Linked DNA regions of Homo sapiens: region 2 is linked to region 1. A link means that fine-mapping ties the variant in region 1 to the expression of a gene that starts in the linked region. Tissue or cell type: whole blood. Region 1 holds a variant in brackets; the other region holds the start of a gene. All regions are shown on one strand. Distances are between the middles of the regions.

What was found. PIP is the estimated chance that this variant, and not a neighbour inherited with it, causes the effect.
Region 2: FCHO1 starts here. The variant in region 1 is fine-mapped to the expression of FCHO1 in whole blood (TOPMed, PIP 0.97).

The regions. Positions count from the first base shown.
Region 1 is chr19:17,724,225-17,726,976 of GRCh38, forward strand. It overlaps MAP1S (microtubule associated protein 1S), which reads left to right. Exons shown (of 7, transcript NM_018174.6): 4 at 825-965; 5 at 1,605-2,752. Among named protein-coding and RNA genes, the nearest start is that of MAP1S, 6.1 kb to the left of the region's middle. The variant A/G (reference allele first, on the strand shown) is at 1,279.
Region 2 is chr19:17,750,330-17,753,081 of GRCh38, forward strand. FCHO1 (FCH and mu domain containing endocytic adaptor 1) reads left to right here and starts at 1,148. Exons shown (of 29, transcript NM_015122.3): 1 at 1,148-1,248. FCHO1-AS1 (FCHO1 antisense RNA 1) reads right to left here and starts at 1,068. Exons shown (of 5, transcript XR_007067152.1): 1 at 887-1,068; 2 at 329-421.

The DNA.
Region 1 (2,752 bases):
GTCCTGGAGGGGGCGGGCTGCTGGGACCCGTGCCTTCTCTGTCTTCCTGTCTCGTGTCCTTGTCTTCATGCTGCCCCAGATCCTCTCAAGACACCCGGCACCACACTTCTTCGCCCACGAAGCCTTCCCTGTGGCTTCAGCCTCCGCTTCTTCCCTCCTCTGGGGTGGGAGCAGAAAAGCCTGGACTTTGGGAGGGAGGGGAGGGTAAGCACTCCCAGCTCAGGGCCCAGGACAGCGTGGGTCTGGAGGTGGGAAGGCCAGAGCAGACAGGTTTTCCTCCTGTGGGTTCCCTCCGGCTAGGCCCCAGGAGTTGTCTGAATCGACTCACTAACATTAACCAGCTTGTGGCCATCTGTACTCTACCAATTATACATCCGGAAGATGAACCAGACAGAGCCCTGGGGCATCCCACTACAGACCTTCTTACAGGTTGATTCCTTGGATCAACTTTTCCCTTTTGTTCCCTTGAGGGGCTCTCAGTCTTTAAGAGACAGAGTGAGACACAGACACCCCCAGCCCTGTGGCATCAGGGCTGGGCTGGAGGGAGAGGTGGACTAGAGAGAGCCCAGAAAGGGCAAGTAGTGCCTTCAGGAGGAAGGGACATCAGAGCTGGGCTTTGTAGGATGAATAGGAGTTTGCTAGGGTTGCTCCAGGGCCCAGCAGGAGACCTGGAGACTGCCTTCGTAGCTAGTTGAGCACTGGGCTGGTCGTGGGGTGAGGACAGGAGAGGGGTGGTTATGTATCGACTCGAGGCTACCCCAAAGAGGACTGCTGGATACGTCACTGCACAGAACGGGTCCTTTAGTGTTCACCCCCTCCCTCAGCTCCGGAACCTTCTGTTGGACCCTGCCTCTCACAAGCTACTGGTGTTGGCTGGGCCCTGCCTGGAGGAGACGGGGGAGCTGCTGCTACAGACAGGGGGCTTCTCGCCTCACCACTTCCTCCAGGTCCTGAAGGACAGAGAGGTAAGCCACCCCTTTGCCATCCCCTGCTTCCCCAGCTCTGAATCCTGACTGGGGTGTATCAGGCTGTGTGGCACCAGCGACCTGCTGTTTTCCATGGCCTGGTCTCCCCATCCTCTGTAGGATGGCAGTGGTGACACATGCCTCCTGGCTGTCTGGGGTCAGTCCCATTGCCCGCGAAAGGGTGTGGTGTGAGCTGAGTTTGTAGGTCAGCAGATGTCCCAAAGTCCTGATGAGGGATGGAGCCAAATGGGTCCTTCCTGGTGCCCGCAGTCTGGGTAGGACACATGGGCAAAATGGCAAACCTCACTTTCAC[A/G]TTGTAGTGGGGCACTTAAAAATGGTGAGAAAAGGTTCAGTAGACAGGTGGGGCGTGGAGAGTCTCCTTGGAGGGAGCTGTGCCCTGGGAGGAGAGAATGGTGAGTGTAAAGGCCCTGGGGCAGGGAGGCATTTGAAGGGGAGGGAGAGACAGGAGGTGAGGCCAGATCAAAGAGCCTTGTGGCGCTGGAGAGGGTTGGGTTTTGGCGGGAGGGCCCTGAGGAGCAGGCCCTGGGGGAAAGGATGAGGGTGTCCTCGCCCAGTTTTCCCACCGGGCTAGGTGTTGCCTGGCTCTAGGTGGTCCCTTACCACTCCTCCTCCATACAGATCCGGGACATCCTGGCCACCACGCCCCCACCTGTGCAGCCGCCCATACTCACCATCACCTGCCCCACCTTCGGTGACTGGGCTCAGCTGGCACCCGCTGTGCCTGGCCTTCAGGGGGCGCTCCGGCTCCAGCTGCGGCTGAACCCCCCGGCGCAGCTGCCCAACTCTGAGGGCCTGTGCGAATTCCTGGAGTACGTGGCTGAGTCTCTGGAGCCACCGTCCCCCTTCGAGCTGCTGGAGCCCCCGACCTCCGGGGGCTTCCTCAGGCTGGGCCGGCCCTGCTGCTACATCTTCCCTGGAGGCCTCGGGGATGCCGCCTTCTTCGCCGTCAATGGCTTCACTGTGCTGGTCAACGGTGGCTCAAACCCCAAGTCCAGTTTCTGGAAGCTGGTGCGGCACCTGGACCGCGTGGATGCCGTGCTGGTGACCCACCCTGGCGCCGACAGCCTCCCCGGCCTCAACAGCCTGCTGCGGCGCAAACTGGCGGAGCGCTCCGAGGTGGCTGCTGGTGGGGGCTCCTGGGACGACAGGCTGCGCAGGCTCATCTCCCCCAACCTGGGGGTCGTGTTCTTCAACGCCTGCGAGGCCGCGTCGCGGCTGGCGCGCGGCGAGGATGAGGCGGAGCTGGCGCTGAGCCTCCTGGCGCAGCTGGGCATCACGCCTCTGCCACTCAGCCGCGGCCCCGTGCCAGCCAAACCCACCGTGCTCTTCGAGAAGATGGGCGTGGGCCGGCTGGACATGTATGTGCTGCACCCGCCCTCCGCCGGCGCCGAGCGCACGCTGGCCTCTGTGTGCGCCCTGCTGGTGTGGCACCCCGCCGGCCCCGGCGAGAAGGTGGTGCGCGTGCTGTTCCCCGGTTGCACCCCGCCCGCCTGCCTCCTGGACGGCCTGGTCCGCCTGCAGCACTTGAGGTTCCTGCGAGAGCCCGTGGTGACGCCCCAGGACCTGGAGGGGCCGGGGCGAGCCGAGAGCAAAGAGAGCGTGGGCTCCCGGGACAGCTCGAAGAGAGAGGGCCTCCTGGCCACCCACCCTAGACCTGGCCAGGAGCGCCCTGGGGTGGCCCGCAAGGAGCCAGCACGGGCTGAGGCCCCACGCAAGACTGAGAAAGAAGCCAAGACCCCCCGGGAGTTGAAGAAAGACCCCAAACC
Region 2 (2,752 bases), 26 kb after region 1:
CCTAGGTTGATGTTTTCACTTCTTTTAAAATCCAAAGGGAAAAAAATGAACTCTTGGGTTGAAGGAAACATTTTTGTGTATAATATTAATATATTTGTCTTTATGTCAATGTAGTTGTAAAATACAGTTTTGTTTTGTTTTGTTTTTGAGACAGAGTCTCTCTCTGTCACCCAGGCTGGAGTGCAGTGGCTCGATCTCCGCTCACTGCAACCTCCATCTCCTGGGTTCAAGCGATTCTCCTGCCTCAGCCTCCCGAGTAGCTGGGATTACAGGCATATGCCACCCCACCCAGCTAACTTTTGTATTTTTAGTAGAGACGGGGTTTTACCATGTTGCCCAGGCTGTTCTCGCACTCCTGGGCTCAAGCAATCCACCTGCCTCGGCCTCCCAAAGTGCTGGGATTCCAGGCATCAGCCACCACCTAAAATATAATTTTAAATTTCTTTTGTAGTGAAGGAAAGCGCTCATGAATGCAAAAATGTCTTCCCCTTTCTTTTCTTTTTTTTTTTTTTTTGAGATGGAGTCTCGCTCTGTCGCCAGGCTGGAGTGCAGTGGCGCAATCTCGGCTCACTGCAACCTCTGGCTCACTGCAACCTCCACCTCCCGGGTTCAAGTGATTCTCCTGCCTCAGCCTCCTGAGTAGCTGGGACTACAGGCATGGGCCACCACGCCCAGCTAATTTTTGTATTTTTAGTAGAGACGGGGTTTCACCGTGTTGGCCAGGATAGTGTCAACCTCTTGACCTCGTGATCCACCCACCTTGGCCTCTCAAAGTGCTGGGATTACAGGCGTGAGCCACCGCGCCTGGCCATGTCTTCCCCTTTCTGAGCGCATTTCCCTCTCTGAGCCTCAGTTTGCCCAGTCTGTGAAGTGGGTATCGGCCTACCTCAGGATGGCAAGATGTTGAATGCCTGGGCCAGGGTTGGTGCTCAGTTATTTCCCAATTGCCATGATTAATATTTGTTCGGTAAGAACAGCTCCAGGTTCAGGCCGGGGGGCTCCAGGTTCAAGCGCCTCTTGTTTACTCACCCATGGCCTGTGTGGTTCCAGGGAGGTCCCATGGGTGCTGATCGGGCGGGGGAGGAAAGGTGGCGGTTGGATGGTAGGCGGGGCGGGGTGAGCTTCCTGTCCCCCCCCCAACCCATGCACACAAGCCTCCAACTTGGTGCTGACGGAAGTGGCCTCGTGGCTGTCTCCTGGCGCCTGCCCCGTCAGACAGGGGCCCCATCCCACTCGCTACCCTGTCCGGTGAGTTTGAGCCCTGGCCAGTAGATACCCATCATCTCGCCTTGGCCCCCCTCAGGAACAGAGGGGAGGCCCCCCTGCCCGGAGCCTGGGTTTCAGGAGAAGTAGCAGGTGTCACTTCCTGGGCTGGCCAAAGCCTGCATGGGGCCACCCGTTGCCCTGCCCCCCGTCCCCCATTCCAGCTGTGAGTGGTGGTTTGGGTTAGGGGGGCGGCAAGGGGAGCTTGGAAACCCAGAGAGCCACGCGTGATGGTTTCAAACAGGAGGTCATTGGCAGACAGACCAGGGGCAAAATCACAGTCAGCCGGGACCAATGATTGATCTCTCTGTGCCTCGGTTTCCTTCATAAAGTTGGGGTTGCCTCTGAGGGCATGGCATGAAGATTGGATGAGCAGATGCGTGTGAATAGTTGGGTACAGGGTCGCACACATACTGGTGCTCCATGTGTATCTGTCTGCCAGAGGTGGGGTGAGGCAATCTAATTGAAACTGTGAAAACAGTAGTGAGATTCTTGGTTTCTGGGGAACTTGGGCTCCTTGGTTCCTGGGATCTTCTAGAACAATGTTGGCCATCCAATACAGCAGCCATCAGCCCCATGTAGCTACTGAGCCTTGGAAGAGAGGCTGGCACAGCTGAGGAGCTGGGCATATAATTGTATGTATGTATGTATGTATGTATGTATGTATTTAATTATTATTTTTTTAAGACAGAATCTCACTCTTTCAACCAGGTTGGAGTGCAGTGGGGCAATCTTGGCTCACTACAACCTCCGCCTCCCAGGTTCAAGTGATTCTCCTGCCTCATCCTCCCAAGTAGCTGGGACTACAGGTGTGTGCCACCACGCCCTGCTGATTTTTATATTTTTTGGTAGAGATGGGGTTTCACCATGTTGGCCAGGCAGGTCTCGAACTCCTGACCTCAAGTGATCCACCCACCTCGGCCTCCCAAAGTGCTGGGATTACAGGCGTGAGCCACTGCGCCCAGCCAATTGTATTTAATTTTACTTGGTTTAACATTAATACAAAAATTAATACAAAAATTAAGGCCAGGGGTTGTGGCTCATGGCTGTAATCCCAGCACTTTGGGGGTCCCAGGCAGGAGGATGGCTTGAGCTCAGGAGTTCGAGACTGGCCTGGGCCACACTAGTGAGACCTAGTCTCTACAAAAAAAAAAAAAAAAATTTATTTTTAATTAGTTAGACATGTAGTCCCAGCTACTCGGGTGGCTGAGATGGGAGGATCACTTGAGCCTGGGAAGTCGAGGCTGCCATGAGCTGTGATCATGCCACTGCACACTCCAGCCTGGGTGACAGAGCAAGAACCTGTCTCCAGAAAAAATAAAAAAATAAAAAAAACTTAATACAAAAATTATTCAGGCGTGAGCCTGTAGTCTCAGCTACTCGGGAGGCTACTATTCAAGGCTCCCTTGAGCCTGGGAGGTGGAGGCTGCAGTGAGCTATGATCGCACCACTGCACTCCAGCCTGGGCAACAGAGCGAGACCCTGTCTC